Linked DNA regions of Homo sapiens: regions 2, 3, 4, 5, 6 and 7 are each reported to be linked to region 1. Evidence: microRNA targets listed by miRTarBase, many of them from high-throughput screens and not tested one by one. Region 1 holds a microRNA gene; each other region holds the end of a gene's coding sequence.
What was found. The annotated mature microRNA hsa-miR-1-3p reads UGGAAUGUAAAGAAGUAUGUAU and lies in region 1 at 1,520-1,541, opposite strand. An mRNA with a match to its seed (bases 2 to 7 or 8) in the 3' UTR can be bound and repressed. Matches are read on the target gene's strand: a 7mer-m8 pairs with bases 2 to 8, a 7mer-A1 pairs with bases 2 to 7 and ends in A, and an 8mer does both.

Region 2: the mRNA of ACADVL is a reported target of hsa-miR-1-3p. The part of its 3' UTR that is shown has no 7-base or 8-base seed match.
Region 3: miRTarBase lists NXPH2 as a target of hsa-miR-1-3p. The part of its 3' UTR that is shown has no 7-base or 8-base seed match.
Region 4: the mRNA of AGRN is a reported target of hsa-miR-1-3p. The part of its 3' UTR that is shown has no 7-base or 8-base seed match.
Region 5: the mRNA of EDN1 is a reported target of hsa-miR-1-3p. Seed matches in the 3' UTR shown: 8mer at 806-813.
Region 6: the mRNA of DYNC1LI1 is a reported target of hsa-miR-1-3p. The part of its 3' UTR that is shown has no 7-base or 8-base seed match.
Region 7: the mRNA of TWF2 is a reported target of hsa-miR-1-3p. The part of its 3' UTR that is shown has no 7-base or 8-base seed match.

The regions. Positions count from the first base shown.
Region 1 is chr18:21,827,496-21,831,562 of GRCh38, forward strand. It overlaps MIR1-2 (microRNA 1-2), which reads right to left and starts at 1,593; the gene lies at 1,509-1,593. All of the region lies in intron 12 of MIB1 (MIB E3 ubiquitin protein ligase 1), which reads left to right. It overlaps MIR133A1HG (MIR133A1 host gene), which reads right to left and starts at 3,911. Exons shown (of 3, transcript NR_110369.1): 1 at 3,827-3,911; 2 at 3,125-3,299; 3 at 1-1,957.
Region 2 is chr17:7,224,418-7,228,482 of GRCh38, forward strand. ACADVL (acyl-CoA dehydrogenase very long chain) reads left to right here. Exons shown (of 20, transcript NM_000018.4): 17 at 63-135; 18 at 225-297; 19 at 392-467; 20 at 540-849. The coding sequence ends at 680. DVL2 (dishevelled segment polarity protein 2) reads right to left here. Exons shown (of 15, transcript NM_004422.3): 10 at 3,560-3,627; 11 at 3,238-3,366; 12 at 2,987-3,118; 13 at 2,673-2,852; 14 at 2,004-2,222; 15 at 925-1,896. The coding sequence ends at 1,448. Among named protein-coding and RNA genes, the nearest start is that of MIR324, 3.1 kb to the left of the region's middle. RefSeq lists an enhancer at 539-1,038.
Region 3 is chr2:138,667,478-138,671,544 of GRCh38, reverse strand. It overlaps NXPH2 (neurexophilin 2), which reads left to right. Exons shown (of 2, transcript NM_007226.3): 2 at 1-2,388. The coding sequence ends at 623. Among named protein-coding and RNA genes, the nearest start is that of LINC02631, 68 kb to the right of the region's middle. RefSeq lists an enhancer at 187-910.
Region 4 is chr1:1,054,606-1,058,672 of GRCh38, reverse strand. It overlaps AGRN (agrin), which reads right to left. Exons shown (of 36, transcript NM_198576.4): 36 at 2,557-3,849. The coding sequence ends at 3,692. Among named protein-coding and RNA genes, the nearest start is that of RNF223, 18 kb to the left of the region's middle. RefSeq lists a silencer at 4,056-4,067.
Region 5 is chr6:12,295,405-12,299,471 of GRCh38, forward strand. EDN1 (endothelin 1) reads left to right here. Exons shown (of 5, transcript NM_001955.5): 5 at 558-1,790. The coding sequence ends at 663. Among named protein-coding and RNA genes, the nearest start is that of EDN1, 7.1 kb to the left of the region's middle.
Region 6 is chr3:32,523,337-32,527,399 of GRCh38, reverse strand. DYNC1LI1 (dynein cytoplasmic 1 light intermediate chain 1) reads left to right here. Exons shown (of 13, transcript NM_016141.4): 13 at 492-1,426. The coding sequence ends at 601. Among named protein-coding and RNA genes, the nearest start is that of MIR548AY, 19 kb to the right of the region's middle.
Region 7 is chr3:52,225,443-52,229,509 of GRCh38, reverse strand. TWF2 (twinfilin actin binding protein 2) reads left to right here. Exons shown (of 9, transcript NM_007284.4): 9 at 309-898. The coding sequence ends at 476. TLR9 (toll like receptor 9) reads left to right here and starts at 3,865. Exons shown (of 2, transcript NM_017442.4): 1 at 3,865-3,983. The coding sequence starts at 3,981. RefSeq lists enhancers at 2,732-3,231, 3,386-3,475, 3,232-3,733, 3,986-4,067.

The sequences.
Region 1 (4,067 bases):
AAGCTTTGAGTATTTTTATAGAAGAACCTCTACTTTTGAGGTATATATTTTGAGTTCTTGGTATTTAGGACCTATACAGGTAAACTTACCAAATAGAACATGAATCATTGCCATTCTGTTTTGTGGATGATCAGAAGGGCTATGCTTATGTGAGTTAAGCTTTGAACTAATTTCTTTGAAAGTGTAGAATTTTAAAATTATGTGCCTTTTATAATTTCCAGTAAACATGCAGTAACACATATGATGCCATGTGTAAGTCATTCTCATTCTTTATAATCTGATAAAATGAAAATCATCTTTGTATTAACTAGTCTTATTAAACAGAAAATGAACTATAGTTAAACTTAGTCATTTCCATTCAATTTCTGATACAAAAAATTTAAAATATTATGCTTTTATACATGTGTAAATATTTCAGTTGAAATAATACTTTTAGTAAGAAATGGTTAGAATATGTGAATATTACTCTTATTTTCTAACTTTGTCATTAGTAGCTTAAAACAGGTACTGCTTATAAATTTTGCTAAGAGCATTATTTGGAATTTTTTATAAATAATATACAAACTGTGTGAAATAAAAGTATTTTGATATTTCTAAACAATGGATTGATCAAGTTTAGAGAAATTGAATTGTAATTGCATAGTACAATAAAAACAGTTCTTCGATCTGTATAAATTGGTTCTTGACTATAGTGCTTTCATTTTACATGCCCTCTTTGGAGAAAGCAAATTCGAAGATAATACAGATAAATTAATTTCTTTTAAATATTTGGTAGTCTGTTACCAATATACCCTGCTGACTTACAGCTGTGGACCAGAATTTTGTCATTTTTCATGCTTAAATCTTACATTTTAATTAATTTTAAGTTTTAACTTCACATTTAAAGTAGAGATTTGGGTTAAGACCCTGATAAACTTGAGAAGGAAGGACAAGGGCCACTATGTTTGTAGCTGTCAAAAAAGAAAGCCTTTTTAAAACAACAAAACTTTTGGTCAGAAATTCCTCTAATATTAATTATACATTTATCAAAATGAGAAGAAATAGCTTATTATGTGAATGAAGCCAGCTCTTAGTATCTTATTTTTCTGTACAAATCAGTGAGCCCTACTAATGAGATATACTTAAGATTAAATTGTGGAGACAGAAAATAGGTCATGTGTATTCCTCATTCTTTTGTGCTAGTAATACTATTTTCCCTTTTGCAGTCAAATTTTAATAATGAGAGTGCCTAATTTAAAAATGTAAGATGTCTGTTTTAAACTTAGATGATTTAAAAGGAGTTTCATGATAATTGAAATCTACTTCACTGGATCTTCTTTTCCTTCATGAAATAAAAACCTTAGGGATAGTTTCTATCTATCAGTAGTAGATAACCTTTTTTTTTTGGTGTTAGTATTGCCAAAGGTCATCTGTTCATGACTAGGTTAATTTACCATATGACGGTCATTCACGTAGAAAGAAGCAAGAGCTTCTTTTAGCTCAGTTTAATTCTCCCTTGGTGGTTTATTGCCTACCAAAAATACATACTTCTTTACATTCCATAGCATTGTATGTTCATATGGGTACATAAAGAAGTATGTACTCTGAGTAGGTATTACTAAGTTGTTAGCTGTAAAAACATGAAATATTTTATTTTCTTATTTGTTAGTGAAACATTCAGCTTACTAATGTAGAGCAATGGTAAATCATTTGCAGAGACTAATTTATCGAAGACTAAATTTTGTAACAAGTTTACCTGAAGCATGGCATTAATGGTTCCATATTCTTGGTGGACATAGACATTCCTAAGCATTTGACCAGTTATCTGTTGAACTTTGTCCTGGTTTGATTCTTTTTGCAAGAGATTCAAAGAATCAGTGTAGTGTTACAGAGTGTATTTCGGAAACTTAAGATCAGCCTAGTGTTTCTTCAGTCTTCAGAGTGAATTTCTTCTTTTTTTGTAGTCTGCTTCTAGATCCTACAGGTAGATAGTAATTAATTAAATTCAATTTTTTTTTTACAAACTAGATATCTTACTCAAAACCTAACAAATTAACCAATAAGTATTTCTGATATTGACTCTAGAAGTTGAAACAACAAGGAGAAAAACCAGGATGAGTGTGGGTGAATTGAACTTTTTTAAAGATTATGAATTTTTGTTAGTGTTTTATAAGGTCACAGATAAGAACTCGTGATCATTTGAAAATTTGTCATTCTTTTTTCTTTATTAGTTCCTTACCTGAAGTTTGCACTTTGATGCTTCTCTTTGGGTTAAATACAAATATGAGTTGAATACAAATTCAAATAGATGTAGAAATATCTAATTTTGGTGAGTTTAAGTTGTTTTGATTCTTTAATCTTTTTAGTATAAAGGATAACTGTCAGAATCGTCAACTTTTAGAAAGTATCACTTCAAAGAACTGAAAGGTTTTAGTCTGTGAGCACCTGGGTTTTATTTACCTTGATAGTTTAGAATGAAAAGAAATTATAGTTGGTAAGTAGCCTTCAGTTATTGTGGTATTAGAAGGTTAATTTAAAACCTCAAGAAATTTTCAGATTTGTCAAAGGAGGAAAAAAAAGGGCAGGGATAGTAGAATTTCTGCAGCTTGTGATAAAAAGCTAGTGCAGCTTATAGAGAGCAAATCAGAATGTAGCAGTAGATAGCCCAGCACTACAGCAGTTTCAGCAATGCAGCATTAGAATTACACCATGCACGTTCTGATTTATTTTTGTGGCCAATTATTAGTAAGCATTAAAAAGTATTTTATGATCTGCCAAGTTTCTTGGTTGACTAAACCTTGAAATAGAAGCTAATAGTTTTAGAAAATAAGTATACTTTGGAAGCAGGATGTGACTTACTAGAGATGCAAAATCATCACTTAATCTGAAACAATAATGACTAAATCTTTAATAATGTAAATGACAATAATGTATTTGTACATTTTTAAGATAAAAAGTTACTGCCATAGTATCTGAACAATATTCCTTTTTACACTACATTAGCTCTTAACTTGAATTGTGAAATTAGGCTATGGTTAGATAGAATTTAATTTAACAATGAGAACATATATTGAGTCAATAATAGGTAAGCATGCAGAAAGTCATAAGCATCCTTAAAAGTACAGGCCTTATGGTGCTCTGTTACCTGTAAGCTTAGTGTCATGCAGCATTTGCAGCAGGAAGAAAGGTAGTAACCTAGAGAATCACATCAACAGCAGCCATCTCATCTTGATTGTTCGTTCACTCTATTTGCTGATTCAGCATTTCTTTTCATGAGCCCGGTGAAGGAAGGGGATGTATCAGTGAACACAGAACCTCACCTTTTAAGATAAATTTGAAAAACAAACGAGCAAACAAAAAACAAGCTTACTTTTCCCTCTCCTCCCCTCTTCCCTTTACCAAAAACAAAAACAAAAACAAAAACCACCAACAAAAACAACTCTAAAATTGAATCAGTGTTGGCCATTTGATTTGGAATGTCATATAACAGTCTTGCACAGTTATATAGGGAAAGTTAAGCAATCAAAAAAGGTTGCTACAAAGGCCAAGAAAATGAACCTAGCTTGTCAGATGAAATGCTTCAGAAGAGGGGAAAAAGTTGCAGAAGTTAATTTTATAGTCTAAAAAAGACAAAAAAAAAAAAAAACAAAAACAGAACCCAAAACACACCTTACTCCCCCCAAATAACTGTAAACATTCACCCTGTTTTTCTTTGCCCTCCAGAATACATTGGGTTCTTCTGACTTCTTAGGAAATAGTCTGCATCTTTCTTGCTTTTAGATTTTTTTTTTTTTTTTTTTTGGTTTTTAGTTTCCAGGATTAAATAGTAGAGCTGTAGTGAAGCTACCTTGTCACATCCAGAGGTCAAGTCTGCAAGCGAGGTCAGGACTTCCACATGGTCACTACGAGGCTAACTTATATTCTTCCTCAGTGACCACTGGCTAAACTGTTACAGCTTTATAGGCAGCTAAGCATTTGAAACATGCACTCCCAGGCAAACAGGCTCTCTTGTGCCTCTCTCTTCCCTGACCATATTTAGTCAACCATAGCAAAAAATAGCCTCTCAGCTGTCGATTGTCGATCCAAAA
Region 2 (4,065 bases), not on the chromosome of region 1:
GCCTGCATCAGGGACTGCAGCCGATGGCCCCTCTGAGCCCCGCACTGTCCCCATCTCTTAAGGCAGTACGGGCTCTGGAGCAGTTTGCCACTGTGGTGGAGGCCAAGCTGATAAAACACAAGAAGGGGATTGTCAGTAAGTGAGCTCTACACCATTCCGCCCCTCCCTTTCCTCTCCTTGAGACTAATGCCCCCACCCCCACCCCCACCCCACCTACCGGACAGATGAACAGTTTCTGCTGCAGCGGCTGGCAGACGGGGCCATCGACCTCTATGCCATGGTGGTGGTTCTCTCGAGGTGAGGAGGCAGGCAGGGAATGCCTGAGCCGCAGGGGGCCTGGGCCTGGATCCCAGCCGGCCCAGATTTATTTTCATCTCCTGCTTCCTGCCAGGGCCTCAAGATCCCTGAGTGAGGGCCACCCCACGGCCCAGCATGAGAAAATGCTCTGTGACACCTGGTGTATCGAGGTGAGACTCGGGGCTGCCAAGCTCAGGTGAGGGCTGGAGGTGCAGGCCCAACCCCTCCTTCCCTCTCCCCAGGCTGCAGCTCGGATCCGAGAGGGCATGGCCGCCCTGCAGTCTGACCCCTGGCAGCAAGAGCTCTACCGCAACTTCAAAAGCATCTCCAAGGCCTTGGTGGAGCGGGGTGGTGTGGTCACCAGCAACCCACTTGGCTTCTGAATACTCCCGGCCAGGGCCTGTCCCAGTTATGTGCCTTCCCTCAAGCCAAAGCCGAAGCCCCTTTCCTTAAGGCCCTGGTTTGTCCCGAAGGGGCCTAGTGTTCCCAGCACTGTGCCTGCTCTCAAGAGCACTTACTGCCTCGCAAATAATAAAAATTTCTAGCCAGTCATGCTTTGCTCCTGTGTGACGGTTCTTTCCCCCTGCTGCCTGCCTCCCTCCCAAAGAAAGGAGCCAGAGGCGTGGGGAGTTTGCCTCTATTGCTTTATTTGGTGTTTTATACAAGTGACTAAAATAAATAGAGTAACAAAGGCAGCTACATGGCCCAAATCTCCCAGCTTCCTCAGGCTGCTGTCTAGGATGCCTAACCCCGGGGTACCGCTGACCACCCCCAACCCTGCAAAGGGCAGGGCTGTGGGTAACTGGAGGAGGAGGTCACATTCTGGGGTTAGAAGGGGCCCAATGGATGGGAATTCTTCATATAAAAGAGGAAATGCCTATTAAAAAAGTCCCAAAAATGTAAGAAACTCTATTTTAACCCCCAAAAAGGCTTATAAAAAAACAAAGCTAAAAATAATCAAAGGTCCCTTGTCTACCCCTGAGGGAAGGGGGAGGAACCAGGCACTGCTGGTGAGAGTCACAGTGGCCACAATCTCCTGTATGGCAGCAGCTGGTAGGCTGAGCCCAGGCACTGTAAGAGCAAGCACATGACGGCCAGGACACCCAGTCACACACCAGGAGCGCCCGGCCCAGCCTGGCCCCACAGTGGGCTACATAACATCCACAAAGAACTCGCTGGGATTGCCCATGGCCATGTGGAAGCTTTGGCGGCTGGCTGTCAGTTCTGGGGGCACAGAGCCCAGGTCTCTGACTGGAGGGGCCCCCGGAGGCTGCACTGCTGGAGGGACTGGAGGTGGAGGTGGGGGCATCATGACCACCATCATGGGGTTGTAGGGGAGGGCCATGCCAGGGGGCGGTCCATAGGGATGGAGCCCTGGGTGGGCTCGGAGATTAGGGGCACCCCCAGTTGAGCCTCTGGATGGAGGAGGGCCCCCATCGCTAGTCCCACTTGCTTCCCCACCCCGCCGAAGGCTGCCCCCTCGGCTGGAGGGCTCAGACTCACTGCCACTGCCGGACTTGGACTCGGGGGCCCGCTCCTCGGGCCTCCCCGTGCGCCCTGCCCCCCCATCACTCCGTGTCGACCCACTGCTCCGGCTGCCTGTGGAGGGAGGGGAGGGGCAACTGAGTCCTCACCCAGGCTCCTCCCTGGCTCCCCTCTCATCCACCCTCAGATCCTGGCCGTACAGGTATGTGGGGATGACTTACCCTCACTATGCTGGCTGCTGGCACTGCCCCCACCATAGGTGTAAGATGAAAGCTCATGGTAGGGTGGAGGCTGCGGGCTGTAGGGGTGTGGGGCAGGGTATTGGTAGGAGAAAGTGGGCAGCAGGGGCCAGGGGGTGGCCCCAGGCAGAGGAGCCAGGGTATCCTGGTCTGAAGCCCCACTGGAGCCATCGTTGTCATTGAGAGACAGGTTGACTAGGTCTGGAAAGCAAGGGAAGAGAGGAAGAAATCACTGCTTCAAGAGGCTAGGGCCCCAAGACACCGAATGGAGAGGAACTGGGAACAGTTCTCCCAGACCCACCCACGATGGGGCTCAAAACAGGGGTTCACAAGGGTCTCTGACAAGAAACTCCCATCTACTTCTGCCATGAGGGCAGGGGCACAGCCACTAGCCCACGTCTTTGCGGGACTCAGGTAAGAGGTGCACCTTCCCCCGGTGGACACAGTCCTGCACCTGGCACATGGCTTGTCCAGCAGCACATGGGTGGACGTCAGCCCCCATCCTCGGCCAGTGCAGGACCTAGTGCGGGACACACACTGCTCGACCATCCATGGTGGCCCTGGCTGCGGTTTCTGGGCTAGGTCTAGGGTTGGAGAGGCAGAACAAGGTAGGCAAAGCCACACTCCCAGAGTTGGGGCAGGGGGACTTACAGCTCTCACAGCCACCACTGAGGTCTCCGAAGACGTAATAGCACTGCTCAGAGAAGGTGATCTTGTTGACGGTGTGTCGGATCAGGCCTGCTTTGAGCAGCCCGCTGGCATACTTGCGGGCCTCCCGCCGCTCAGGAAAGCCCTCCACGTGATGGTAGAGCCAGTCAACCACATCCGAGCCTGGGAGCACCCACAGTGGAAAAAGGCCTCAGGTTCTTCTTCCAACTCCTGCTCTCGCCTCTGCCTGTGCCATTCCTGGCTTTGGTCACCACCTCCTCCCCTTCTCCAGCCACCTGCCCAGGACCCAGCCATACCCAGAAAGGCATTAGGGATGGTGATCTTGAGCCACATGCGGTCCCGGACTTCCAGTCCAGACTCTGGAGCTGCCATGGCCTTGGTCACCGATGCCATGTCCGTATGGACGGAGAGACCCCGGCCTTCACAGCCTGGCAGAGGAGACAACGGGTAACCAGAGTCAGGGATCGCTCCCACAAGGGCAATGGATCAGACCACTGCGGGACAGCCTTCTGCTGGGAGGGTGGGATGAGGTGGGCTGGCGGCTCACCATCAGGCAAAGACGATCCAGATGTAATGGTGCTCATGGAGGAGGAACCTGGATAGGCTGGGAAGGTGCCAGTCAGAGCCGCGGAATGGGACACCCAGGCAGCAGGGTCAATTGGCTGGATGGGCTCATCTGGGACAAAGATGGCACCAAAATGACCCATTCTCAGTCCCCAAAAGCCAGCCCAGTCCCTCCCTGACTCAGCCTCCTGTTCCACCTCTGCCTGGACCCTCCTCCCACCCATTCCCCATGACCACAGGCCCGGCCCCAGCCTCCTGGGCAGCCCCCACCCCCAACTTCAGGCCCCTCCCTGAGTGTCACTCACTTCGGGGGAGAGTGAAATAGGCCTGAGGAGAGGGATCCCAGCACTTGGCCACAGTCAGCACAATGGGGCTATGGGGAAGAGAAGTCCAGTCAAGGGCGCAGGGGAAGAGGAGGCCTCAGGAGGGCGGGGGTCTGAAGCAAGGATGGATTAAGAGACACAAAGAGGGGGAGAAGCAAGCACATCGCGGCTGGGCTAGAGAAGGTGAGGGTGGAAGGCACCACAATGTGGATGACTCATCAACATGGAAAACTCTTAAAAACATACTGCCAAGTGAGACAAGAGAGTACACGCTGTACAGTTCCATTCACAGAAAGTCCAAAAACAGGTAAAACGAAACTGCAGTGTTCAAGGATACGTGCAAGGGTGGTAACTATCCAGTGAGGCAAAGCTTTTCTTTGTTATGGTGATGGCCAAAGAAGTCAGGAGAGTGACTACCCCTGGGGCAGTGAGGCATTTGGGAGCAGGAAGGGACATCTGAGGAGGAAGTTCTAGGGTATCAGCAATCT
Region 3 (4,067 bases), not on the chromosome of region 1:
TGTTTGTTAAACAGTCTCCGGTGCCCAAGCCCGGCCCCATGGCGTACGCAGACAGCATGGAAAACTTTTGGGATTGGCTGGCCAACATCACGGAGATTCAGGAGCCATTGGCAAGAACTAAACGGAGGCCAATAGTAAAAACAGGAAAATTTAAGAAAATGTTTGGATGGGGTGACTTTCATTCCAACATTAAAACTGTCAAACTCAATCTCCTCATCACAGGGAAAATTGTTGACCATGGAAATGGAACCTTCAGTGTGTATTTCCGACATAATTCAACAGGCCTGGGCAATGTTTCAGTGAGCTTGGTACCACCCTCCAAGGTGGTGGAATTTGAAGTTTCCCCCCAGTCTACCTTGGAGACCAAGGAATCCAAATCTTTCAATTGTCGCATTGAGTATGAAAAAACAGATCGGGCGAAAAAGACCGCCCTGTGCAACTTTGACCCATCCAAGATCTGCTACCAGGAGCAGACTCAGAGCCATGTGTCTTGGTTGTGCTCCAAGCCCTTCAAGGTCATTTGCATTTACATTGCCTTTTACAGTGTTGATTATAAACTCGTGCAAAAGGTGTGCCCTGACTACAATTACCATAGTGAGACCCCATACTTATCTTCTGGCTGATCTTCCTGCTGTGGTGGAAATGAGGGATACATATGTATTTGATTAGAATGACAAAGAAACAAGCCCAGCTCTTTATGATAAAGGATCCCTTTTGTTTCTGGCAGTGAACAATAGTTCCCTATCAGGTTTTCAAATTTAAAAAAAGAAAAAGAGACATCTTTAAGTGTGAAATTTGTTTCTTTCTATCGTAGGTACCTTTATCTAAAAAGTTAAACTGTTTATGAAACCATCACTTTCATGCAAGATGACTAAGTTCTAGAAATCTTATTGTTTCTCTGAAAGAAACATCAATGATAGCAATATGTGACAAGAAGGAACAAAATTATGCATGTGACAAACATTGCTCTTGAAATGAGCCTGCCTTTGAAATATGTTTTGGAAGGTTACCGCAGAAACAGCAGATGCGGTAAAGGAAAAGATTGTATTTGATAGATGAATTGTGTTTTTGACATTGGACCCTTTTTTTTATATTTCTATCTTTTCCCCCATCCATCTGTGCTGTTATTGATATGAGAGAAAAAAAGGTAAAATTTGTTTCAAAATTCATGTGTGAAGTTACAGTGCCACAGTGGAACCAAGTTCCTTATCATCTGAGCTACAGTTGCGTGGAATGTGATTTGAGCACTTAGCCCTGTGTTGGTCACCATTCTTATGATTCCCCCTGAGTTTGAATACTGATGTAATGGGAAAGCAAATCTGAGAATAAGTTTGTTGAACGATAACAAAAATCATGATGTTTTTAGACTCTTCTGATAAATTCAAATGCTGTGGAATTAATCAAAAAATGACAAAATTTGTATGCATCCTATAGCTTAGAGCTTTATTCAATTCATTCGATAGTGTGATTCTTTACACATGTGTAGAACAGCTCTGAAGTTGAGTGAAAGTGCTTGTTTCCTAGACTAGAATAGAAAACAAAAGTGGGAAGTAGAGGGAGGAAATTTCAGGATTATGGATTCATTATTTCTAGCCTCCCAGATTAAGTTCCCCTTGCATTTAGTTAATATTTGAATAAGAGATCAAACTCTATGTGGAAATAGAGAGTTATATTTAAACATTTCTAATTATTAAGTGCTGACAACCAAGATACCTGGCTTACCAGACTTTTGAAATGACTTTCAAATTAATGTCACTTCACAGTCAGTGCCCTTCTCATCTTCCCTGTGGGGGTGAATAGCAGTCCTATATGGTAGAACTGAATGATCATTAAATTAGAACAGAAACAGGGGTCTGGTTGGCCAAGAAAAAGGCTTCTAGAACTCAGGACGCTCATGGAATGGTCACTCCTTTTACAATAGATGTTAACTTCTTTCTCCCTTCTTATCTGTAAAATATTAATTAAAGTAAAACATTAAATTGAGGACTAAAGGAAGAGAAGTCCTAAACAACAAGAAATACTCTTACCACACTGTTCAAAAAACCAAGAGCTCTGTTCTCTATCTTCATTTCTTTCCTTTTACCGGTAATATCTGCAGTGTTCAATTTTTGTCTTTTGTAAAAATTGTACTAAGCTTAGTGTGTGGTAGTACAGGCTTGAAGTTCTTGCTCTGAGTTCACCACATGTTTTTGTAATTTTGTGGTTGGTGATTAATATTTTGAAACATCTTTTTATTTTCACCTAGAAACAAGAGTAAAATATTATTTATTGTAAAATATGTGGGAATCATATATCTATATATATATACTTAGAATTTTCTGTGTACAGAGAAAGTATGTGTACACATTTTATGTAAATAAAAAGAATTTGCTAGATCTGTCACATTAATCCTGGGTGGTTATTTTTTAAAGACTCTGTTCTCCTTGTTTCTTTTCCTCACAAGGGCTTATTCTGTGCATGTGTGTGTGTGTGATACCAATTGAACAAGAAGGTTTCCCTTAGATACATGTTAAATAGGCATCTTGGCTGTGGAGATTTTAAAGTAGGGCAAAAGAATAACTCACATAAAACATTTTGTACATAGCATGGCATCTAGTAAGAAAGAACTCTACTTGTGAGCTGCCATTATGATTATTATTGTTTTGACGTGAAGTAATGAGGTTTAAAACTATCTGATGTTCCAAAGTTGAGAGATGTGAACATTATTTCTATGCAAAAAAAAAAAACAAAAAAAAAACTGTAAATTGATTTATACAGTTCTTAGATGTTAGCAGCGTTTGTGGAATTTTTTAAAAGTTTCCCATAAGCTCGTTTGTAAGTTGGAGTAGAATATATGCCACATATATTTCTAAGTCATAATTTCATTTCAAAGCATACCTAATTGTCAGTAATGGTACTTGGCACAATATAAATCAGAGCCCACTTAAGCATGCAAATACACACATTTCTACAAAACTATTTTTTGCCCTTTAGTACTGCTATTGAGGAAAAGGATATTCATGGAAGCTAATTTTGCACTCAGTCACAAACTGTTTAAAAACTAAAGCAACAGAACTTTTAAACGTATAGACATATTAACATATAGAAGAGTAATATTTCAAAGAGAGTGCAGCCTACACTACCTTCTTAATCCTCTTTTTTGACAGACAGGAAAACCCAAGTCCCCATGAGGGTAATGATGTGCCCACTAGTAAATGGCAAACCCAACTGAAATGCATTTCTCCTGACTCCTAGTCCCAGCTCTTGCGTTACATAAGAAAGGTAAATTGAAGCAGGTATTCAAGACAACAAAAATAATTGCAATGAGTTTATAACAAGACAGGACCCAGTAGCCAAAACTGAACCTGAAAACGGTGAAAATAACCTCCCCCTAAAATATTTAGGATAATAATTTATCTATGATCACAAATTTTTTAAAAACTGCAACTACAGAAAAGTAAGTCAGGATAAATCCTTATATCCAAAGATAGGAGTCCTGGAATACATTAGCAATATGACTGGCTAAGAATTAACAGCAGTAGAACACTACATTGGGCAGTTTTCAGGTGATTATGGCACCTGAGAATATATTTTCATAGGAATTGGTATGTTTTGGGGAATATCTTGATTGCCTAAAGGTTTGATTTCACCTCATAAAGAATTTTAAATTAATTAACTGGCCTGTAAAATGTAGAGGATGGAGTCATGCATTCTTACTTGCGGGGAAACTAAAGTTAACTCAATGTTGATTAATCAGAACTCTTAATGAATGACAATTTAATATTGCCAATTGCAAGAGACAAATCAGGATAACAAGTTCATATTAGAGATTATTTTTCCTTCAGGAAAGTCTTGTAGATGATACTCAAAGATCATTTCATCTTCACCCCAATCTCCTACCCCATATTCTGAGGTCTGGAATCCTGGGAACACAACCCATTCTGCTTCATTTTAAAACTTCCCTTCTCTACATTCAACTCAGCTGTCCCATAAATACAGACAGTCCCTGATATACAATGGTTCAACTTACAATTTTTCGACTTTACGATGTTGCAACAGCCATACGCATTCAGTAGAAACAGCATTTT
Region 4 (4,067 bases), not on the chromosome of region 1:
TTCATGAAATCTGGTGGCCTCCTGCTTGGAGCCCTCCAGGAGCCTCCCACAGCTCCTCAGGCAGCACCCCCAGCTCTCTTCCCCAGGCCCACGCAGCCCCACTGGACCTGCCCTGCCCATCTCTGTCCAGCCTCTGCTGCTCTGACCTGTGGCCTCTGTCCTGCACGCTGGCCTCTGGCCGCTCCTACGCCTCCGCTTCCTGCTGAAAGATCCCTTTGTCAAGCCACAGGGCCCTGCACACCGTCCAATGGACCCACACCACATGCCCCGCCTCTGGCCTCCTCACCTGCCCTCCCCCTGCTCATGCTTCGGGTCTGGGTTTGGGCGTGTTTTCTCTGGACCTTTCCTGAAAACCAAAGTTAGTCTGCCCCCACCCTGGCCCCCCACCGTCAGCGACCTGTGTGTGGCCACCGCTCCTGGACTCTCTCCTCCCCGACCCCCAGTGCCTGACACCTGCCAGGCACACAGGGTCGGTCAGCATATCCCCAGAGGACCAGGTGATGAAAAGCCCAGAAAGCAAACACTCAGACGCATGGGACCTCCTGGGTGTGGAGCTTGTGGGTATTATCTTTTCATTTTTTTTTTGAAACGGAGTCGCGCTCTGTCGCCCACGCTGGAGTGCAGTGGTGCAATCGCGGCTCACTGCAACCTCCGCCTCCCGGGTTCAAGCGATTCTCGTGCCTCAGCCTCCCGAGTAACTGGGATTACAGATACCTGCCACCACGCCCAGATGTTTGTGTTTTTAGTAGATACAGGGTTTCACCATGTTGGCCAGTCTGGTGTTGAACTCCTGACCTCAGGTGATCCGCCTGCCTCAGCCTCCCAAAGTGCTGGGATTATAGGCATGAGCCAATGTGCCCAGCCATTGGTGTTATTTTATTTCGATGTTTTTGTGGTTTTCTTTTTTCTTTTTTTTTTTGAGACGGAGTCTCCTTCAGCCACTGAGGCTGGAGTGCAATGGCGTGATCTCGGCTCACTGCAACCACCGTCTCCTGGGTTCAAGCAATTCTCCCGTCTCAGCCTCCGGAGTAGCTGGGACTACAGGCACCCACCATCATGCCCAGCCAGTTTTTGTATTTTAGGAGAGACAGGGTTTCACCATGTTGGCCAGGCTCGTCTTGAACTCCTGACCTCAGGTGATCCACCCGCCTCGGCCTCCCAAAGTGCTAGGATTACAGGTGTGAGCCAGCGCACCTGGCTTTTTTTTTAAAATCATTAATACAAAATAGAAAACTACACTTAGTTATTTTTCATAAGAGACAGCAGTTTGCGAAGGGCCACCCAGCTGGCCACACACCCTACCCCTTCTTCCCCTGCTTCTCCCCAGGGCTCACATCTGCCGGTGCTGGGTGCCAGCTCTGTTTTTTAGACAGGTTCTCGCTCTGTCACCCAGGCTGGAGTGCAGTGGTGCAATCACAGCTTGCTGCTGCCTCAACCTCCTGGATTCAAGTGATCCTCCTGCCTCAGCCTCCGGAGTAGCTGGAGCTACAGGTGTGTACCACCACGCCTGGCTAATTAAAGAAATTTTTTTGCAGAGATGGGGTCTCACTATGTTGCCCAAGCTGATCTCCCACTCTTGGCCTCAAGCGATCCTCCAGCCTCAGCCTCCCAAAGTGCTGGGATGACAGGTGTGAGCCACCGCGCCCTTCCCTGAGGCTCAGCTTCTGCAGTGCTGTCACCCACACACTAATTTAGGAAGCAGGTTAGAGGGAGTCCAGGAGCCCAGCTACCCCAGGGGTTTCTAGTTAGGGGCTTCCAGCAGTGCCAAGGGTTGGTTCTGCACACCTGGGCCAGTGAAAAGGCTGCCCAACAGCCCCACGCACCCTGGCTCCCCCCAGACCCTTCCAGTCCTGGGTGCAGCCTCCTCCCAACCCTGTGCTCTGACACAGATGTGGGCCAATTATGTGTGCAGGCACACACACACACACACACACGTGCACGCCAGAGAGCAGGCACACACACCCACACATACACGCCGGAGAGCAGGCACACGCACCCACACACGTACATGCACCCACACATGCACGCCGGAGAGCAAGCACACGCACCCACACGCACACGCACCCACACATACACGCCGGAGAGCAGGCACACGCACCCACACACACGTACATGCACCCATACATGCACGCCGGAGAGCAGGCACACGCACCCACACCCACACGTACCCACACGTGCACGCCAGAGAGCAGGCACACGCACCCACACGCACATGCACCCACACGTACCCGCACCCACACGTACCCGCACCCACACGTGCACGCCAGAGAGCAGGCACATGCACCCACACGTACCCGCACCCACACACACACACCCCCACACGTACACGCACCCACACGTGCACGCCAGAGAGCCTCCTGCCTCCACGGCCCCGCCTCCCACAGTGCTCAGCAGTGTGTGCTCCCCACTCAGGGCCTCATCAGCCACAAGGATCCCTGTGCAGGGCCTGGCTCCATCCAGGGCCACCCAAGGGAGCTCCAAGTCCGTGCTCCCACCACAAAGCGGAGCAAGAAGCCAACGGGCCAGCGCGCTGGTGAGGATGGACAAAAGCAATGCTTTTAAAGTTTTCAGACTTTATTTCACAGCGATTGACACAGAAACATACTAGAGTTAGTAACACGGCACCCAGCCCCACCGCCGCCCGCTTCATCGGGTCCTGCTCCTAGGAGGACTGGGCTGGGGCTGGGGGTGGGGATGGGATGGGGGTGGGGAAGGGACGGGACGTTGCAGTTTAAGGCATTTCTGGCTTCGGAGCCATCCCTGCCACCTCTGCACCTGCCCCTTGACCTTGGTCAGACACTGGCTGGCCCCTGGTCATTCTGAGACAAGGACGACTTTCACTGACGCTGTGGGGAGGATTTGCAGTGAGGCAGCCCTCAGCCGCTCTCAGGCGAGATGGGAAAGATGAGACCCACCACTCCAGGGGTCAAATAAAATCAACACATGAAGAACACAGCCATGGCCAGGCCCAGATACCCAGGCAGGCGGCAGAGGTCAACCCCATCCCACAGTGAGCTCCTCTCGATAGCCCCTCGCAGGGCCTGGGGTGTGGCAGAGGGATACGGTCACGTCCAGGGTGGCTGGGCAGGGCCAGCTGAGGGTCAGGACACCCAGATCGGCCCTGGTCTGGCCTCTGCTCCTCAGCAGCCTGGGGCTGGCGCAGGCAGCACGGGAGCAACGCAGAGCTGTGCCCAGCAGTAACATTGTTTGGAAGTCACAGTATTGGCGCAGGAGGCCGAGGCAGGGCCCAGAGCACACACAGGAAGGAGCAGCTCAAATGGGGGCTTGGAAAGGCCCTGTGGGGTCACCCGGAGGAAGGGCCCCATCAGACCTCAGCAGCCCCTTCCTCTCTGGGACACGAGTCCCGCCTGACGGAGCGAGGGTGATTCAGGAGCCGGGGCTGCTTCCCGGCGGGGACACCGTGGGGCAGGCGCAGTGCAAGGCGGGGGCTCAGCACCTTGAGGCAGGGGTGTGTGTCCTGAGGCTGCCATCCACGCCGAGCCCTCCACGCTGCCACCTCGCCTGTCCATCCCTCGGCACTAGGTCTGTCTGCAGCACGGCTGCCTGGACGGAAGGGAGGCCGGGCCAGCAGTCCCTCCGGCCAACACTCAGGCAAGAAAATCATATCAAAAAGCAACAAGTTTACAAAAATAGAAAATAATTACAGCGGGCGCGGGGCTCTGGTGCCAGCTCATGGGGTGGGGCAGGGCCGCAGCTCTGGCTTGGTGACGGCGTCCTCCAGCAGGTGCAGCGGGTGCCGGCCCACCACCACGTCCCGCAAGCAGCCCACAAAGCCTGTGCCGTAGGCCTTGGGCAGTGCTGGGCCCACGGGCAGCTCCGGCAGGCCCCCTGCAGCACAGACAGTGGGAGTCACCCGGCTGTGACTCAGTGATGCTGATGGGCACCCCAACGAGCAGGTGACCAGCAGGGGGCCCACACCTGGGCACCCGCCTCCCGGCCCCACAGCACTGGGAACTGCAGGGGCTACAGCGGGAGAAGAGAGCCCAGCCCGCCGGCTCACATGCACCCTGACTCAAGGGTGGGCGCTGGGGGGTGGAGTCTGTCCC
Region 5 (4,067 bases), not on the chromosome of region 1:
GGGTTTTTATTATGCCAACTATTAAATCAACATTACAGTTCTTCCCTCTGTATTTCTCCTGTAAAACATTAGGCCTGCAAAAAAAAAAAATCTTTTTAAAAATAATTGCCATAAAGTATTTGCTCTGGGCCTACTGTATGCTTCTTTTCTTTTTCTCTCTTTTCAACTAAGTCACCGTCAATTTATTAAGATGGCCATAACTATTCAAAACCTATGCTGAGTTCCTCAAGGCAGGGTCACATAGTGATGAAGGTTGGGATGGGGCTACGGAAGAAACCAGAACAACTCTAGTTTATTTAAAACCTGTATTTACTGCCCACTTCCCCTTAGACTTGACCATATGACCCCTCGCTCCCATTCTAAGCATAGGGGCAGGCTTTATTTTTACAATGGTAATAGATATCACTTGAGGTTTTATCAAAGAGTTGCGGCGGGTGGTGAAAGTTCACAACCAGATTCAGGTTTTGTTTGTGCCAGATTCTAATTTTACATGTTTCTTTTGCCAAAGGGTGATTTTTTTAAAATAACATTTGTTTTCTCTTATCTTGCTTTATTAGGTCGGAGACCATGAGAAACAGCGTCAAATCATCTTTTCATGATCCCAAGCTGAAAGGCAAGCCCTCCAGAGAGCGTTATGTGACCCACAACCGAGCACATTGGTGACAGACCTTCGGGGCCTGTCTGAAGCCATAGCCTCCACGGAGAGCCCTGTGGCCGACTCTGCACTCTCCACCCTGGCTGGGATCAGAGCAGGAGCATCCTCTGCTGGTTCCTGACTGGCAAAGGACCAGCGTCCTCGTTCAAAACATTCCAAGAAAGGTTAAGGAGTTCCCCCAACCATCTTCACTGGCTTCCATCAGTGGTAACTGCTTTGGTCTCTTCTTTCATCTGGGGATGACAATGGACCTCTCAGCAGAAACACACAGTCACATTCGAATTCGGGTGGCATCCTCCGGAGAGAGAGAGAGGAAGGAGATTCCACACAGGGGTGGAGTTTCTGACGAAGGTCCTAAGGGAGTGTTTGTGTCTGACTCAGGCGCCTGGCACATTTCAGGGAGAAACTCCAAAGTCCACACAAAGATTTTCTAAGGAATGCACAAATTGAAAACACACTCAAAAGACAAACATGCAAGTAAAGAAAAAAAAAAGAAAGACTTTTGTTTAAATTTGTAAAATGCAAAACTGAATGAAACTGTTACTACCATAAATCAGGATATGTTTCATGAATATGAGTCTACCTCACCTATATTGCACTCTGGCAGAAGTATTTCCCACATTTAATTATTGCCTCCCCAAACTCTTCCCACCCCTGCTGCCCCTTCCTCCATCCCCCATACTAAATCCTAGCCTCGTAGAAGTCTGGTCTAATGTGTCAGCAGTAGATATAATATTTTCATGGTAATCTACTAGCTCTGATCCATAAGAAAAAAAAGATCATTAAATCAGGAGATTCCCTGTCCTTGATTTTTGGAGACACAATGGTATAGGGTTGTTTATGAAATATATTGAAAAGTAAGTGTTTGTTACGCTTTAAAGCAGTAAAATTATTTTCCTTTATATAACCGGCTAATGAAAGAGGTTGGATTGAATTTTGATGTACTTATTTTTTTATAGATATTTATATTCAAACAATTTATTCCTTATATTTACCATGTTAAATATCTGTTTGGGCAGGCCATATTGGTCTATGTATTTTTAAAATATGTATTTCTAAATGAAATTGAGAACATGCTTTGTTTTGCCTGTCAAGGTAATGACTTTAGAAAATAAATATTTTTTTCCTTACTGTACTGATTTGGAATCATTACTGAAATTTGTAAGGAGTGGGCCAACGTGATTAAGTACCATAAAGGCAAATAAATGGTTAAAGACGGTTTCATAGAAAAGTGACAATTAGAAGGATATTACGGTCTAAGCTAATTATATAAAGAATTTTATCTGTATCTTAAATGTTGATTTTATACTGCATTGAGGTAAAAACACAAAACAAAAAAGCAGCTTTAACACCTCTGTCTTCTCTTGGGTAGCAGCCTCCTGCTTCTCCTTCACCTGAAAAATTCTCCAGGGACTTCATCCATTAACTTGGCTCAGGCTATTAGGCAGGATTCAACAGTTTAAGCTGATGGTGTGGTGAGAGATGCTTTATCCATATTAATGGACTGAAGGAAGTAATGGCAAGACAACCCCCCAAAACATACCTAATTATACAAAGTTATATACCAAAGTTGCTTTTAGAAAATGGCCTGCTCAGAGCAAGTAGAGGTTTCCAATGGCTTTTTATTTTCTCACATTAAGGATGTTGTTTCTTAAGGAACATTGAGTACCATTGCTTCTTCGTGATAGCCTAGGACTGGCCGTGTGCCCATGGAGGTAGAGACACCAGGTACTGATTCTAGGTCCTCTGCCACAAAGCACCACTTCCTCTCCACTTTGCCTTGGCTGGCCTTGTCAGCTCACTGGAGAGCACAGTATTGCAATTGCAGTATTGCAAATGGTCACTACTAACTGAATTCTCTAAGAGCTTGATTAGCCCTCGAGAATCTTCCTTGCCCTTCTCTAATAGTGTCTGAAGGAATTCCTGGCATTTAACAAATATTAGCATGTAGTGATCACTGTCGTCCTAACAGTGACACATCAGAAGGATTTCAAATAACAGTCTTCAGGCATGCGTAATCAATGTCCTGTGCAGAGTCTCCGTCCTCATTGATCCTCATTTTTCTCTTTAAGGCACAGTCCAATGTCTTTGGGGAATTGTTTATAAAGCTTACTTTATCCATAAACTGTTTCTCAGTGCGTGACTCTGAAGAAAATTTTGAAGTTTTGCCCATGTTGACAAGGTGCTTGGTCTGAACTTGGCCAGTATTTAATCTTGAGCAAACGATTCAATTTCCTTCTATCGTGAGTTTTCTCATCTATGAAACAAGGGAGTTGAGGGGAGTTTCTTTCATACCTCTGAGAAAGAGTTTGAGATTACATAAAGAAGTTGAAGTGGCATGAAAAAAAATAAAGATCTGAGCTTAGAAGACATGGATCTAATACATTTAAGAGGAAGTCAGAATCAGAGAAGCCACTGAACAAAACAGTCCAAAGGACAGCATAGTAAGTCAGATTGATGAGTTTTGGTTGGGTTTTTCATCAGTCAAACCCTTGAGCCCCCCTTTCCCATGCTTCCTGCTTCAGTATCCAGTAGGAAAAATGAAAGGGATGATGTAGACACTCTAGGGCATGAGGATTTGCAGTAAATAAGTTGGGAGACTCACAGAAAATTAATATTTTTCAAACATGAAGACGAAACATTCAATTATATTACAGTCCACATCAGCTTGAAGGGTAAACTGATGGGATGGTCTGTCACATTTCTTGCTCTGTTTCCAGTAAAAGCATGGTTTCTGGAAACCCACTTAGGACAGCTTTCTCTCTTTACACTGATAGCCCAGGCAAGCTTTGATCTCAGAACTCCAGAAACCAGAGAACTCTAGGTGGAATGTGGTAACTTTTGCCAGGGCAGAGGGAACACCTACTAATAGGTACTTCATTTGCACCACCAGAGATTGGCATCTTTTTTGATGGATCCACTGGCTTTGATACTGCCTGTACTCCCCCAAAACACAGCTTGGGTATTGGACTAATCTAGAGCTCCCTCAGGAGAACTCTTGCTGACATTAAGAAAGAGCAACATTTTGTCTTTCCAGGTGAAAATCCAAGGCCCAAAAAGGGAGGTGACTCACCTAAGATCACAGAAGGAGCTGTAGCATCTCTGGAGCCTGAACACTTAAGTTAAGCACGACTATTTCAGCCAGAGGGCCCCTGGAGGTCTGCAGAAACAGATGCCCAGGCAAACCTTGCTAGAAGGCTCTGGGTACTAAAGCCAAAATCAGTCTTTCTGAAAGCTTTGCCTCCCAGCCTTGTAGACAGTGCTAGCAGACCCATCCCCTCAAGAGGAAAGAGAAGAAATGCAGGGGAAGAAAAAAGGACTATAAGGAGGCTATCTCATGGCATCGTTAAGTAAATGTCTATAGGATAAAATAGAATATAACCAAGAATTTTTAATTATTATTTTTAGACTT
Region 6 (4,063 bases), not on the chromosome of region 1:
AGATTAAATGATAGGTGCCAGTTATACCTCCATTTGGTAACAGATCCACAATTTAAAATGAGGGAATTTGTTTTTTCTTGAAATTTATATTATTTTTATTTTTTAGACAGAGTCTCACTCTGTTGTCTAGGTTGGAGTGCAGTGGTGTGATCTCAGCTCACTGCAACCTCCACCTGCCGGGTTCAAGCAGTTCTCCTGCCTCAGCCTCCCAAGTAGCTGGGATTACAGCAGGGTTTCACCATGTTGGCCGGGCTGGTCTCGAACTCCTGACTTGAAGTGATCCTCCCACCTTGGCCTCCCAAAGTGCTGAGATTACAGGCGTGAGCCACCACACCCAGCTTGAAATTTTTAAATTAAGTGTTGTTTGTATAACTTAGTGTGCTAAATAAAGTTAATGAAAGTGTTAGGACTTTTTAAATGAAGAGATATTGGTGAAAACGATACTTTCACTTATATCTAAATCTTGTTTTTTTTCTTTTTCTTCAATGTAGGCCAGAAGCCTGTCTTAGATGTTCATGCAGAACTAGACAGAATTACACGAAAACCAGTTACAGTTTCTCCCACAACACCTACATCTCCTACGGAAGGAGAAGCTTCTTGAAGATACCAAATAAAGCCATTTATTCTGTTTTCTGGGATAATGTAAACATGCCTCTGCCTTTTCCTTCAAAAGTGGAATTAGAAAGCTGGAGTGCTTCTTCAGATGGACTAAATTTATGTCGTGTGTGTGTGTGTGTGTGTGTGTGGTTACCCATTTTTTAGAAGGAGCCGTACAGAAGAAAAATTATTCTACATTATGTAGGATTGCTGTTTGCATTGCCATTTTGCATAAGAAAGTAATTTTTGATTTTGAAAATCTCAAAACTTTTAGATCTGAAATACAGCCATGTGATCGATCATATTCTAAAGGCTATTTAAAACATGTAAAAGGATTTGGGGAACGGCAGAAAACATGCAGTTTGGGCATTTGACTGACTTGGAAGTCTAAGCTTATTTTAGTTATAACTATTAAAATCATTTTTAAAAATTTGTTAGTTTTGCTGACAGAGAAAAATCGTCAGTTGTCAGATTTTGCACACCACAATAAATGTACCACCACACACGGAATATGCTAAGAAAACTATCAGATAGCGTTTGATACACTAGTCATTGTCTCAATCACTGATCCTGTAAGTTGTCATCAAAATATGATTTAGAAATATTGGCCAAGGTGTTGCTTTAACTGAGGAGAAAAGAAAGCACACTGCCTAAATGTGTAAAAGAAAAATGCAGAGGTTATTAAAATGTAAAGAAGTAACAATCTTTGGATTTGTCTATACATATATATATATATATATGGCTTTGCCTTAATATACCCCCTTTTTTGTTTGTGACTTTCAACTGTAATCAGTTAATAAAGTATTTATTCTCTGCATTCAGGTTCAAATAACTTGTTGCATTCTCTTATGTTTAAATTTACATGTGTCAGCTAATAAATGAGATTCATTAGTACAGTCATCCCTTGGTATCCATGAGGGATTGGTTCCAGGACCTGCCTCAGGTACCAAAATCTACAGATGCCCAAGTCCCAGATATAAAATGGTGTAGTATTTGCATATAACATTCACATCCTCCTGTTTACTTTAAATCATCTCTAGATGATAATACCTAATTCACTGTAAATGCTATGTATATACTTATACTGTATTGTTCAGAGGAAAATAACAAAAAAAGTGCCTGTTTAGATGCAACTTTTTTTTCAAATATTTTCCTTCTGTGATTGGTTCAATCCATGGATATGGAACCCACGGATACAGAGGGCTGACTAATTTAAAATTTTCGACCTAATTAATAATATAATTATTAAGCTTTCTGACCTAAGAGATAAACGAATACACACGTGCATGTATATGAGGATAAAATGGTGTTCATGGGCATACAAAAATTTATGAAAACATTTTATCTGATAAAATATTTGAGATAAACAATGCCAGTGATAAAATCTTTAGTCCAGAAAGGGTTCTGCAAAAAGGGTGGTGTAGATTCTCTCTAAATCAGTACTCGATGAAGTAAGTGGAACTAATGGAAAAAGGAAAACTGCTGACAGTATTTGGTGTACTTGGATATATCTGCTACCTTGTTTGCATGCATAAACCAACTCATTCTGTGTGTGTGAGACATTGAATGTGTACTAGAAAATCCTTGAAATTAATTGAGTTGTTACTTCAGTTTACTGTAATTGTTCACTCTGGGATTTAGTTTAATCTTAAGACCTTGCATAGATCATGTTTAAATCTGAAAGCTTCACGCCTGTAATCCCAGCACTTTGGGAGACCGAGGCGGGTAAATCACGAGGTCAGTTCAAGACCAGCCTGGCCAACATGGTGAAACCCCGTCTCTACTAAAAATACAAAAAATTAGCTGGGCATAGTGGTGGGCGCCTGTAATCCCAGCTGCTTGGGAGGCTGAGGCAGGAGAATCGCTTGAAGCTGGGAGGCCGAGGTTGCAGTGAGCCGAGATCCCACCACTGCACTTCAGCCCCAGTGACAGTGAGACTCCATCTCAAAAAAAAAAACAAAACCTGAAACCTATTTTTGTACAATTTTTTGCAAGGAAATTTGTTTTAAAACTTTGTTTTTAAGCAAACTTTATTGAAGTATACAATACAGAAAAAATGTACAAGTGTATGGTTTGAAGTATCACAAAGTGACCACATATAACCAGCACCAAAATAAGCAACAGAACATTACCCAGCACTTACAGAAGCTTCGAGTGTGCCCCCTCAATCAGTATCCCCACCCACCAAGTAACCACTGCGTAACTTACAAATATGCAGATAAGTTTGGCTTATTTTTAAGCTTTATAAAAATTGAATCTTACAGAGTTAATATTATTTTAGTGCCAGGTATCTTTCAATATCAGGTTTGTGGTTCATCCATTTTGTTGCATTTATCAATAGTTACTGCAGTATATTATTCCATTGTGCAAATATAGTATCTATTATGCTATAGATGTGTATGTATTAATTTCCTGTTACTGCAGGAAATTACCACAGATTTGGTTGCTTAAAACCTTACAAATTTATTATTTTACCATGCTGGAGGTTAAAATTCCAAAATAAGCCTCACCTGGTTAAAATGAAGTGTCAGCAGAGCTGGCTTTTTTTATTATTATTATTATTTTGAGGCTCTAGAAGAGTATCTGTTGTCTTTTTTTTTTTTTTTTTTTTTTTTTTTGAGACGGAGTCTTGCCCTGTTGCCCAGTCTCGAGTGCAGTGGTGCGATCTCGGCTTACTGCAAGCTCCGCCTCCCAGGCTCACGCCATTCTCCTGCCTCAGCCTCCCGAGTAGCTGGGTCTACAGGCGCCCGCCAGCACGCCCGGCTAATTTTTTGTATTTTTAGTAGATACAGGGTTTCACCATGTTAGCCAGGATGGTCTTGATCTCCTGACCTCATGATCCGCCCTCCTCCGCCTCCTAAAGTGCTGGGATTACAGGCGTGAGCCACCGCGCCCGGCCAAGTATCTGTTGTCTTTCTGGCATCTAGAAGCTGCCTGCATTCTTTGGCTCTTGGCCCCTTCTCCAAAGCCAGCAGCCTAGCATCTTCAACTCTGCATCCATCACATCACTTTCATTCTGACCTCCCTGCCTCCCTGTTGTAAGGACTGAAGTGATTAAATTGGCCCCCCCTGAATAATTCCGTATACTCTCCCTCCACACTTTAAATATTTCACTGCACTCTCTTGCTTGCATTGTTTCTGAAAAGGAATCAGATGAATTTCTTATGTTTGCTCCTCTAGAGGATATTTTTTCCTCTGGCTTCTTTCAAGACTTTTTCTTTAATTTTCTGTAATTTGAATATGATATGCCTAGGTGTAGGGTTTTTTTTTTTCATTTATTTTTCATTTTATTTTATTATTTTATTAATTTTATTTTATTTTTTGAGACAAGTTCTCACTCTGTTGCTCAGGCTGGAGTGCAGTGACTCAATCAGGGCTCACTACAACCTCTGCCTCCCAGGCTCAAGCAATCCTCCCAGCTCAGCCTCCCTAGTAGCTGGGGCTACAGGCATGCGCCACCACACCC
Region 7 (4,067 bases), not on the chromosome of region 1:
CCAAGGCTGCCCAGCTGATCGGTGGCTCAGAAAAGTCCAAGTCCTGGCTACCATGTCATGTCCTTTCCCTGGGCCTGGAGACAGGGAGGAGGTGACCCCAGCGAGCAGAGTCCAAGGCATGCAGGGCAGCAGGCCCTAAGCTCTTGCTTTCCTGGGAGTGGCATTCCAGGTGGGGAATCAAGGGGAGACCTCAGGAGACCCCAGGGCTAGGATGTGAGAGTAAGGGGTGCCCCAGGAGTGGGGGCTACCAGGGGTGGTGTGTGTCAGAGCCCCTCCCATTGGGGTGACCACTGCCTTGCCCCATGCAGATTGAGATTGGCGATGGGGCAGAGCTGACGGCAGAGTTCCTCTACGACGAGGTGCACCCCAAGCAACACGCCTTCAAGCAGGCCTTCGCCAAGCCCAAGGGCCCAGGGGGCAAGCGGGGCCATAAGCGCCTCATCCGCGGCCCGGGTGAAAATGGGGATGACAGCTAGGAGGCTGGAGCAGGGCCGGCCACGTGTGGACTGTGGGGCTGCCCACCTTCCGCTCCCTGCCACCATCCTCCTTCCTGGGCTCCAGGAAAGTGTTTCTGGGAGGTCAGGAGGGCTGGCAGCTGAACGCACTTGCAGCGTCCGAGGGCCACCGGGCTGGCATTTTGTGACCCTTCCCTGTTGCTGTCCCTGCATCTCGTCTGTGTGCCCAGGGTGTCCGGGGACCCTGCCTGGCTGGCTTAAGGGGGCTGGGTCAGGGGCCTGGCATGAACCTGGCCTCCCGGGGAGCTGAGACTAGGGTCCCAGCACAGCCCAGAAACCTTTGGCCACAAGAAGTGGGGTCAGTCAGGGCTGGGGCAGGGGTCACTGCAGTTTGGGATGGTTGAATGCTGTATTTTCTAAAGAATAAAATATTTTTAAATCAAGACTTGTGCTTGGCCCTGAGAGACCGCCTCTGGCCCTGGGAATTGGGCAGTCTTGTGCATATAACTGTCCTTTCCCAACAGGGGAGAGGGGAGTGCCGGCCTGCGAGGTGGAGCCCCAGCACTCCACCTCCAGGTGTGTGGGAGAGGCTGTGCCTGTGAGTGGGCGTGCAGCCTCACGCGGGTCTCCCAGTCAACAGGAGCCCTGCTGGAGAGGCAGGCGCGCCTCCACTGTGACATGAGGGATCTGCATATGGTCATTTGCTGAGGCTGCCGTAACAAATTACCACCAACTTAGTGGCTTCGAAGAAACTCAAATGTATTCTCTTACAGTTCTGGAGGCTGGAAGACTGAGATGGGTCTCACAGGGCCAAAGTTGAGGTGTTGGCAGGGCTGGCTGTGTCTGGGCCCCTCAGAAGAACCCATCTCCTGGCCTTTTCTGGCTGTATTCCTTGGCTTGGGGCCCCTTCCTCCACCTTCAAAGCCAGAGGTGACATCTCTGATTCTGCTTTCCTCAGCCTCTGGGCTCCCATGGCCTTTTGTAGTCGAATCTCCCTCTGTCTCCATTTCATAAGGGACATTGTAATTGCATTCACCCTCCCTGCCCCCACCACCTACCCCTGTCAAGATGGGTAACTTAATCACATCTGCGAAGTCGTTTTTGCCACACTGTGGGGTGTTGGGGTCACGTGTTTGCAGGTTTGGGGAATTAGGACAAGGATCTCTGAGAGGGACTTTATGCAGCCTCCCACATGGGATAAGGGCTCCTCCTCGAAGGCTTCCCAGCCTCCCTGGGCTGAGGCCAGGACAAGTTTTTCTGTGGACATCGATATCGGTGTCTCCAAGCTGAGTGTGTCCATGTGCGTGGGTCTGTACCTGTGTGTGCAGACCCCTCTGTCAGCTTACTGGCCTCTCTGGTTTTCTGCCTCCAAAGAAGGCAGGGCCACTGCTGGGTATGGGGGTCTGGGTCCCTGGTCCAAGGGACTCTGGGAAAGTCTCAGGCTTGGGGCTCCACAGGAGCCCGAGCTTTGGTGTATCCCTCTGAGAGGTGGATGGAGGGAATGAATGCAGGTGCCTTCCACCCCAGGCAGGCAGGAGTGGAAGCATGGGGTTGATGCCTGCAGCCCAGCTACTGAGTGGGCACTGCTCTCCTTCCTGGCTCAGGGCAACATTCTATCCCTGGCGCCTTTCTGAGCCCCTGCTCAAGCCCCTAGAATTGTAGAGAGGAGAGCCAGACTAGCTAAGACCCAGAGGAGGCTTGTCCTTGCCCAGCCGAAACATTGGCTCCCAGGTGGGCAGGAAGACGATGCCATCGCCCCCTGCTGCTGAGCCAGCCAGATGCCTGGCACTATGGAGCCTGCCTGCCATGATACCACCCAGAGTGGGCCTGGGGGGAGCAGGCTGGCAGATGTGCAGCCTTGCCTCCTCCCAGCAGCAACAATTCATTAATTCATTCATTCAGCCTTCACTCAGAAATACCCTCTCTGTGCCTGCCCAGAGCTGACTGCTGGGTGTACATAATTCAGCAGATATCAAGCACTTACTATGTGCTGGGCACTGTACTGGATCCTGGGGATGCAGATAAAAGATCACTGCCCTTAAGAAGCTGACATTCCAGCAGGGGAATAAGACGATATACAATAAACCATGAAAGATCAATGATCCGGTGTGCTAGCAGTTAAAAAATGTTAGGACAAAGAGAAACATAGACCAGGCAAAGGAGCTCAGGAGTGCCAGATCTGGGGTGGGAGGTTTGTAAGAAGGCTGGATGGCCCTGTTGAGAGGGTGACATGGGAGCAGAGACATAATGGAGGCAAAGGAGGGGTCATATGAGACTTGGGGGAGTTTTCAGGCAGAGGGAACAGCACATCCCAAGGCCCTGAGGCAGGAGAATGCCCAGGGGCTACACAGTCAACTGCAAGCAGGCCAGTGGGCCTGGAGAGCACTCAGGGGAACAGCGGGTGGCAGGTCCCATAGGGCCTTGTTGGCCATCTGTGGACTGTGGCTTTGACTCCAGAGTCAGCCAGGGAGGGGTCTGAGCAGAGGAGGGACCTAGTGTGACTTAGGTTTGAACAGTTCCCTCTAGGGGCTGAATGTGACCAGCCCCTGGAGGGCAGAGAGCAGGGCAGGACAGCCAGAAGGGAGGTGGCACCTGCATGGGTCTAGGAGAGAGGATGGGGGCTGGTGGACATGGGGACGGTGGGCTGTGGGCACACCCTTCAGCATGGTGGACCCAGCAGAACTTGCTGAGGGGCCCGGGGTCACCCAAGGCTTTGGGCCCGAGGAATCTGAGTCTCCTCACCTAGATCAGAAGGAGAGTGGGAAGAACTGATGGGGAGGACTGGCTGGCGGCCCTGCTGGGCCAGCACACACCTGGCCTCTAGGAGCCCCATCTGGAGTGACGTGGTGTGTGCTCTGATGGGGCCCCAGGGGCTCTGGGAATGTGGAGGAGGAGGTCTTGTTTCCGGAAGATGTTGCAAGGCTGTGGTGAAGGCAGGTGCAGCCTAGCCTCCTGCTCAAGCTACACCCTGGCCCTCCACGCATGAGGCCCTGCAGAACTCTGGAGATGGTGCCTACAAGGGCAGAAAAGGACAAGTCGGCAGCCGCTGTCCTGAGGGCACCAGCTGTGGTGCAGGAGCCAAGACCTGAGGGTGGAAGTGTCCTCTTAGAATGGGGAGTGCCCAGCAAGGTGTACCCGCTACTGGTGCTATCCAGAATTCCCATCTCTCCCTGCTCTCTGCCTGAGCTCTGGGCCTTAGCTCCTCCCTGGGCTTGGTAGAGGACAGGTGTGAGGCCCTCATGGGATGTAGGCTGTCTGAGAGGGGAGTGGAAAGAGGAAGGGGTGAAGGAGCTGTCTGCCATTTGACTATGCAAATGGCCTTTGACTCATGGGACCCTGTCCTCCTCACTGGGGGCAGGGTGGAGTGGAGGGGGAGCTACTAGGCTGGTATAAAAATCTTACTTCCTCTATTCTCTGAGCCGCTGCTGCCCCTGTGGGAAGGGACCTCGAGTGTGAAGCATCCTTCCCTGTAGCTGCTGTCCAGTCTGCCCGCCAGACCCTCTGGAGAAGCCCCTGCCCCCCAGCATGGTAGGACAACAGCTCTCAGTCCCCTGGGGAAGGGGATATCCTGGGAAGGGGTGGGGAAAGAAGTGGGCTTGGCAGCTGCAAGCA